Linked DNA regions of Homo sapiens: region 1 is linked to region 2. The links come from fine-mapping of genetic effects on gene expression. A gene starts in region 2. The other region holds a variant in brackets. All regions are shown on one strand. Distances are between the middles of the regions. Region 1 overlaps TPD52-MRPS28 (TPD52-MRPS28 readthrough). Region 2 holds the start of MRPS28 (mitochondrial ribosomal protein S28).

Region 1 (2,792 bases), 51 kb before region 2:
TTGGGGGACTGAGGTGGGAGGATTGCTTGAACCCGGGAGGCGGAGGTTGTGGTGAGCTGAGATTGCAGCACTATACTACAGCCTGGGTGACAGAGTGAGACTGTCTCAAATAATAATAATAATAATAATAATACATAAAGATATATGTATAGGAAGAAACACTTGCATAAATAGAATTTTAATGTAAAAACACCATATTTTATATTTATGATATATAAATACTTCTTTTTCCTATTTCCCTTTTTCTTACAAAAAATGCAACTAGAACTATTTGCTTGGTTAATTATCCAATTTAAAAAAATAAATATGAAAATAGAAATGTAGACAGATCACATCATAATGTAATTAGTTAAAAAGACATGCTTTGGAATTCAGATTAGGAAAGACAATATAAGAACAGTCCATCTATTTATTAGAGACTGACAGCTTATGGTTGACAATGGTGTGGCTGAATTTAAGTGAACTTAATTAAATATTACTTGATAATACTTAACAGTAAAGTGATAGGGTGAAACAAATTGCAAAGTGTGGGCTAAGGTGAACTAGGCTTATACTTAATGTTTTTTAATTCTTTTACAAAAGATTATTGCAACAAAAAGATGTTAAAATTTTTAGAAAGTGACAGTTGTATTTTTTTTTTCCCTGATAAACATGTAATCTAAGTAGTTTAAAACAACTAGGAAGATAAGAATCTGTCCGAAGTGACAGACTGATCAGGATTTCATCTTCACCATGCATTGTGGATCAGATCAGGCTTCAATACAAAACTCTACTGTGTACTAGCTCACGACTTTGCATATATTTCATACCTTCTCTAGGTCTCAGTTTCCTTGTCTAAAAACTGTGGATAATGTTTCCTAACTTAGAGCATTACTATATTTATCCTTGAAAAAAGACAGGATATAAGAGTAAGCTATGGTTATATTTTTGACAATTGAAAAGAGAATTTGGATTATGATCTTAATTTTACCCACTCTTCACTCCACCCCCATCTCTACAAAAACAAAACAAAATAAATAAATAAATACGCAGTTTCCAAGAATTGTGACATAATTTTATTTTCCAGAAAATGAAATCAGTGGATAACCACCCCTTAGGAAATGAGCATAGAACAAACTCATTTTACATGAGTTAAAATGTAGTAATCAGAATGGAAAGAGGCAAGAACATATTACTTTAATGATGTATTTTTTTTCACTATTGAAAGTTGAAAAGTGTTATCAGAAATTCTCTGAAACAAACATATCTTAGTAGTCATTTCTAATATAAAATACATTCAGTCACTAATTTTTTGTGTTGTTTTGTATCTTTAGTTGAAGACAGGAACACATAACCTATACTTTCAAAATACAGCCAGCCTAAAAAGGTAAATAAAATTTTTTATTTTGAAAAGGGAAAAATTTCAAGAAAAAAACTGTACCTATCTGTAGATGCTGGATAATGTTCATTCAAATCTTTATAATACGGGAGCCTTTATTCTTTGAGAGGCAGAACTGGAGAATTAGGACTTTGGAGGAAGAGACATCTGAGTTAGAATTCCAGCTTTGCCACTTAATAGTGGTGGGAGCTCAGGCACAGCAGCAGAACCCACTGGCTAGGTGACACAAGAGTTATATTCCCAGTCTCCTTCTCACCTGAAGCAGCCACAATGAA[A/G]AAGTTAAACACTGATTTTCAGAGCCTTCCCTGCAGTTAGGGAGAAGCTAGATATGTTGTATAGGTCTGACCAATTAAATGAAAACTGAAGTCTGGCAGCTTTTGTTTTCCTGGTAAAAGGGACAAAAAAATAAAAAATAAATTTTAAAAGAAATTTTTTTACTTATTTATTTCTTCTTGTGAGACAGGGTCTTACTCTGTCACCCAGGCTGAAGTGCAGTGGCACAAACACAGCTCACTCCAGCTGCAACCTTCCGGGCTCAAGAAATCCTCCTGCCTCAGCCTCCCAAAATGCTGGGATTACAGGTGTGAGCCACTGCACTCATCCCAGGTCTGCTTTTTAACTACCCTTATGAAAACTACCTGCCCTCCCCAATCTCTTCCTTCCCATTCTCTTCCTCCCTTAAACACAGACATGTGGTCTGTAGAATCAGCAGCCTTACTGTACCATGCATGACTCAAGAAGCCCCAAGCCTCATGTTGATGTTAAAGCATAAAGCATTGTCAAGCTGCTAAAACAACCCCAGTAGCCACTAACATTCAGGATTCTCACGCAAAAAAAAAAAAAAAAAAAAAAAAAAAAGTCTCTATCTTTTTAAGCCACAAGTAGACAAGTTTTCTGCTATTTGCAATTGACACAAGTCTAAATGATTTGGAAAGTCACAAATTCTGAGAATCACCTTCCTCATCTATTAAATAAGGGTGATGCTAGTAAGACGTATGTAAAGCATAGTATCTGTCTGACACATAGAAAAGGTTCAATAATGCCAGCTGTTGTGATAATGATGACAACTTTAATTCTCACACCAACCAGTACTTTGATAGCACTTTGGGGGTAAGTACTATCTTCAACCACTTTAAAGACAAGAAAATTAAGGCTCCAAAGTTAAGCAACTTGCCTAAGATCACACAATTAGTTAGGAGTAGAGCCAGGATTCAAATCCAGAAATCTTTCCAAGGCCATGATCTTAACTAGTATTATGCTTAGAAAAGTGACTGAGTACAATTAAGACTTAACAGCTAATAAATGTTGGCTATAATGATTATGACAACATAGCCAACTATGAAGACAAGAACAGGCAGAAAATGCCCTATAGTTTTCAAATCTAGAAAACAATAAATTCTCATTTAATTTGACA
Region 2 (2,792 bases):
CCAATGTAATCACAGGGATCTCAAAAGCAGAAGACGGGCGGGGGGGGCGGGGCCGGGCGGGGTCAGCCAGGCCAGGTGGCTCACATCTGTCATCTGTAATCCCAGCACTTTGGGAGGCCAACGCAGGAGGATCACTTGAACCCAGGAGTTCAAGACCAGCCTGGGCAACATGGCAAAACCCCATCTCTACAAAAAAAAACAGAAAAAACAATTAGCCCAGAGTGGTGGTGCACACCTGCGGTCCCAGCTATGAAGCAGGAGGATCACTTGAGCCCAGGGGGTTTAGCAGTGAACTGAGATCATGCCACCACACTCCAGCGTGGGTGACAGAGCGAGACCCTGTCTCAAAAAACAACAAAACAAACAAAAAAATCCAAAAAACAAAAAAGTAGAAAACAGAGGCAGAAAAGACAGGCCAGGAAGAGATTCTCCTAGAAGCTACGGAAAAGAACACAACTTCACCAACACCTTGATTTTAGACCAGTGAGATCCCGTCTGACTTCTCACAACCCTAACAACAACACATTTCCTGTGTTTTACGCCACTAAATTTGTAGTAATTTGTTACAACAGAAAATAATAAACTAATATACCAGGCTTCTTCTAGTCCTTGGATTTCAGAAAAATTTTGACATCAGTAATTGCTACTAAAATGACCCTATAACCCAGGACACTGCCAGTCTTGTGAACTGTTTGGTACTACTCCCTAGGAAGAAAAATACAGAAATTGAGAGTTTATTTGTATATAATTCAATTTCATGTCTGCTGAGTTTAATTATTAAAAACTTAGGCTTGTAATTTTATTTCTTCCATTTCATTTATCTATAAATTTATGGTATTTTACAAAAGTACTGGCTGAGACAAACGGAGATTTTACTTTACTTTTTAAAAAAAGAAGACATTTACAAAAGAGAGGTGAAGCGCTGACAAGTTAAATCACTTGCCCAAGTTCAGAAAGTGATTCATCACCCAGTCATTAAATTAACAAATGTTTATGAAGGGCCTTCTACTCCAGACAGCAAGCTCCATGCTAGAGCTACTGTTCAGAACAAGACCCAGCAGAGCCCTGCCTCTCCGTGTGAGTCCCATTCTCCTTAGCGTCCCAGGAATCGCCCTAGATCGCCTCCCCAGCAGCGCTCCCCGCTGGTTACCTTCCCACCAGCATTCAATCCCAGGAAAACAAGCGCAGTGTGGACAGACCCGGCCCAGTACGCAAATGCCACACAAAAGGACAACGAAAGGAAGAAAAACACCAAGCACAGATTCTAGGGGCCGAGGGCTGAGCCACAACGCACCGCAACTCCGGAAAACTGGGCCCCGGACCTCAGCTCCCCTTCCTAAGCCAGGCTCCGCCCCTATTCCCGACCCCGCCCACCGCGTCGTTGGCGTAATTCCCGCGACTCCCTCTCACCCGCCCGGGCTCCACCTTCTGTAGGGGCTCCACCTTCTGTAGAAGCTCCGAGTGCCGCTCCAACGCGCTCGCGAAACCGCCTGCGCGCGTCTTAGGCTCCTTGGCATTGGAACTACCACTTTCGGATCCACTCTCAGTGCCTACACCCCGAAAGGGCCTGAAGAAGAGAAACACTCGCAGAAAATGGCTCTCGGCAGCCACAGCACGGGTCCGACACAGCGCCGCCATGACTTCTTTACCTCTGACCTTTGACCTCCCCTCCGCAAGCGCGCGGGTCACGGGGCGGAGCTATGAGAGGTCCGCCCCCCGGACGCAGAGCTCTGGAGGCCAACGAGGCGTGTCTTCCTTTCATCTGGGAGTGGCGTGGGGAAGAAGAGACTTAAGCTAAAATTGGTGGGCTAAATAGTTGGAAAGGGGCCTGGTTAAGTTTTGCGTTAGAAGTGCGTTTAACTTGCAGGAATTTCGCCTTCCTGGGCATCCGTTGGACCCCATTGTACTGTAAATTCTGCTAACGCGACGCTCGTTCTCCCGCCCTGCCGTCCCCCCTACATGGCCGCCAGCACTCGAGTTTGGGGTCTTCACTCAAATATGAGGGTCTCCTTGATTACCCTATTTAGAAGTGGAAGCCCAAATGCAGACTCTCTGGCACCTGTTTTTCTTAGTACCATGTAGCACTTTCTAATATGCCACATATTAATATTAAATATTTAATAATATTTAGTGTCTACTCCCAACTTTTTAAACTTTGAAAAGAGGAACTTTGCTGTAGGGTCCCTAGCACCAGGCACAGATTAGGGCTCACCCAACATTTGCCAAACCCTGCATCCAAGTTTGTCCTTTGCCACTTCTGCAGCCAGTCCACTCACGCCACAAAAATAGTTTTTCTGAAATGTTTTGACACCTCTAGATACCTATTATCTAACTTAGGAGTTCAGAAGTTTTGGAATGTCCCTAAGTATTGCACCGCCGTAGGCCCCCACCCTCACTCTGGATTTTCTTTCCCTTTTCTCCTGCAGTGTTAATTCCCAAAATTTACCCACCCTGTTCAAAACAGCCTAACATCATTCTTAAGTGTTTATTAATTAGTTGTCCGTCTATCTTTGACCCAGCAGTTTAATATTAATCCACAGTTAGTTTTATTTTGGGGGCACACACCTTTCCAGTTCATTTGCAAGTACTTCGAGAGAAAGAATTTTTATGATCACAGACCCTATTTTAAGAATGCCTTGACTATGGGTTTTAAGCTTTTCTGATGCTCTCTAATGGTACAGATAGTGTTAAGAACACGAAGTACACTGATCTCAGAATGGTGCACAATTGTATGAATCACATAAAATTATTACTAGCTAACTGTATGGTAGTCCTTACAAATTCATTAAATT

The links.
Region 1: its variant is fine-mapped to the expression of MRPS28 in nasal epithelium (TOPMed, PIP above 0.99).

What each region holds. Positions count from the first base shown.
Region 1 is chr8:79,977,708-79,980,499 of GRCh38, forward strand. All of the region lies in intron 6 of TPD52-MRPS28 (TPD52-MRPS28 readthrough), which reads right to left. All of the region lies in intron 2 of MRPS28 (mitochondrial ribosomal protein S28), which reads right to left. Among named protein-coding and RNA genes, the nearest start is that of MRPS28, 51 kb to the right of the region's middle. The variant A/G (reference allele first, on the strand shown) is at 1,654.
Region 2 is chr8:80,028,611-80,031,402 of GRCh38, forward strand. It overlaps MRPS28 (mitochondrial ribosomal protein S28), which reads right to left and starts at 1,649. Exons shown (of 3, transcript NM_014018.3): 1 at 1,426-1,649. The coding sequence starts at 1,638. The region is part of intron 5 of TPD52-MRPS28 (TPD52-MRPS28 readthrough); the gene reads right to left. It also overlaps a transcript of TPD52 not described here. RefSeq lists an enhancer at 1,372-1,801.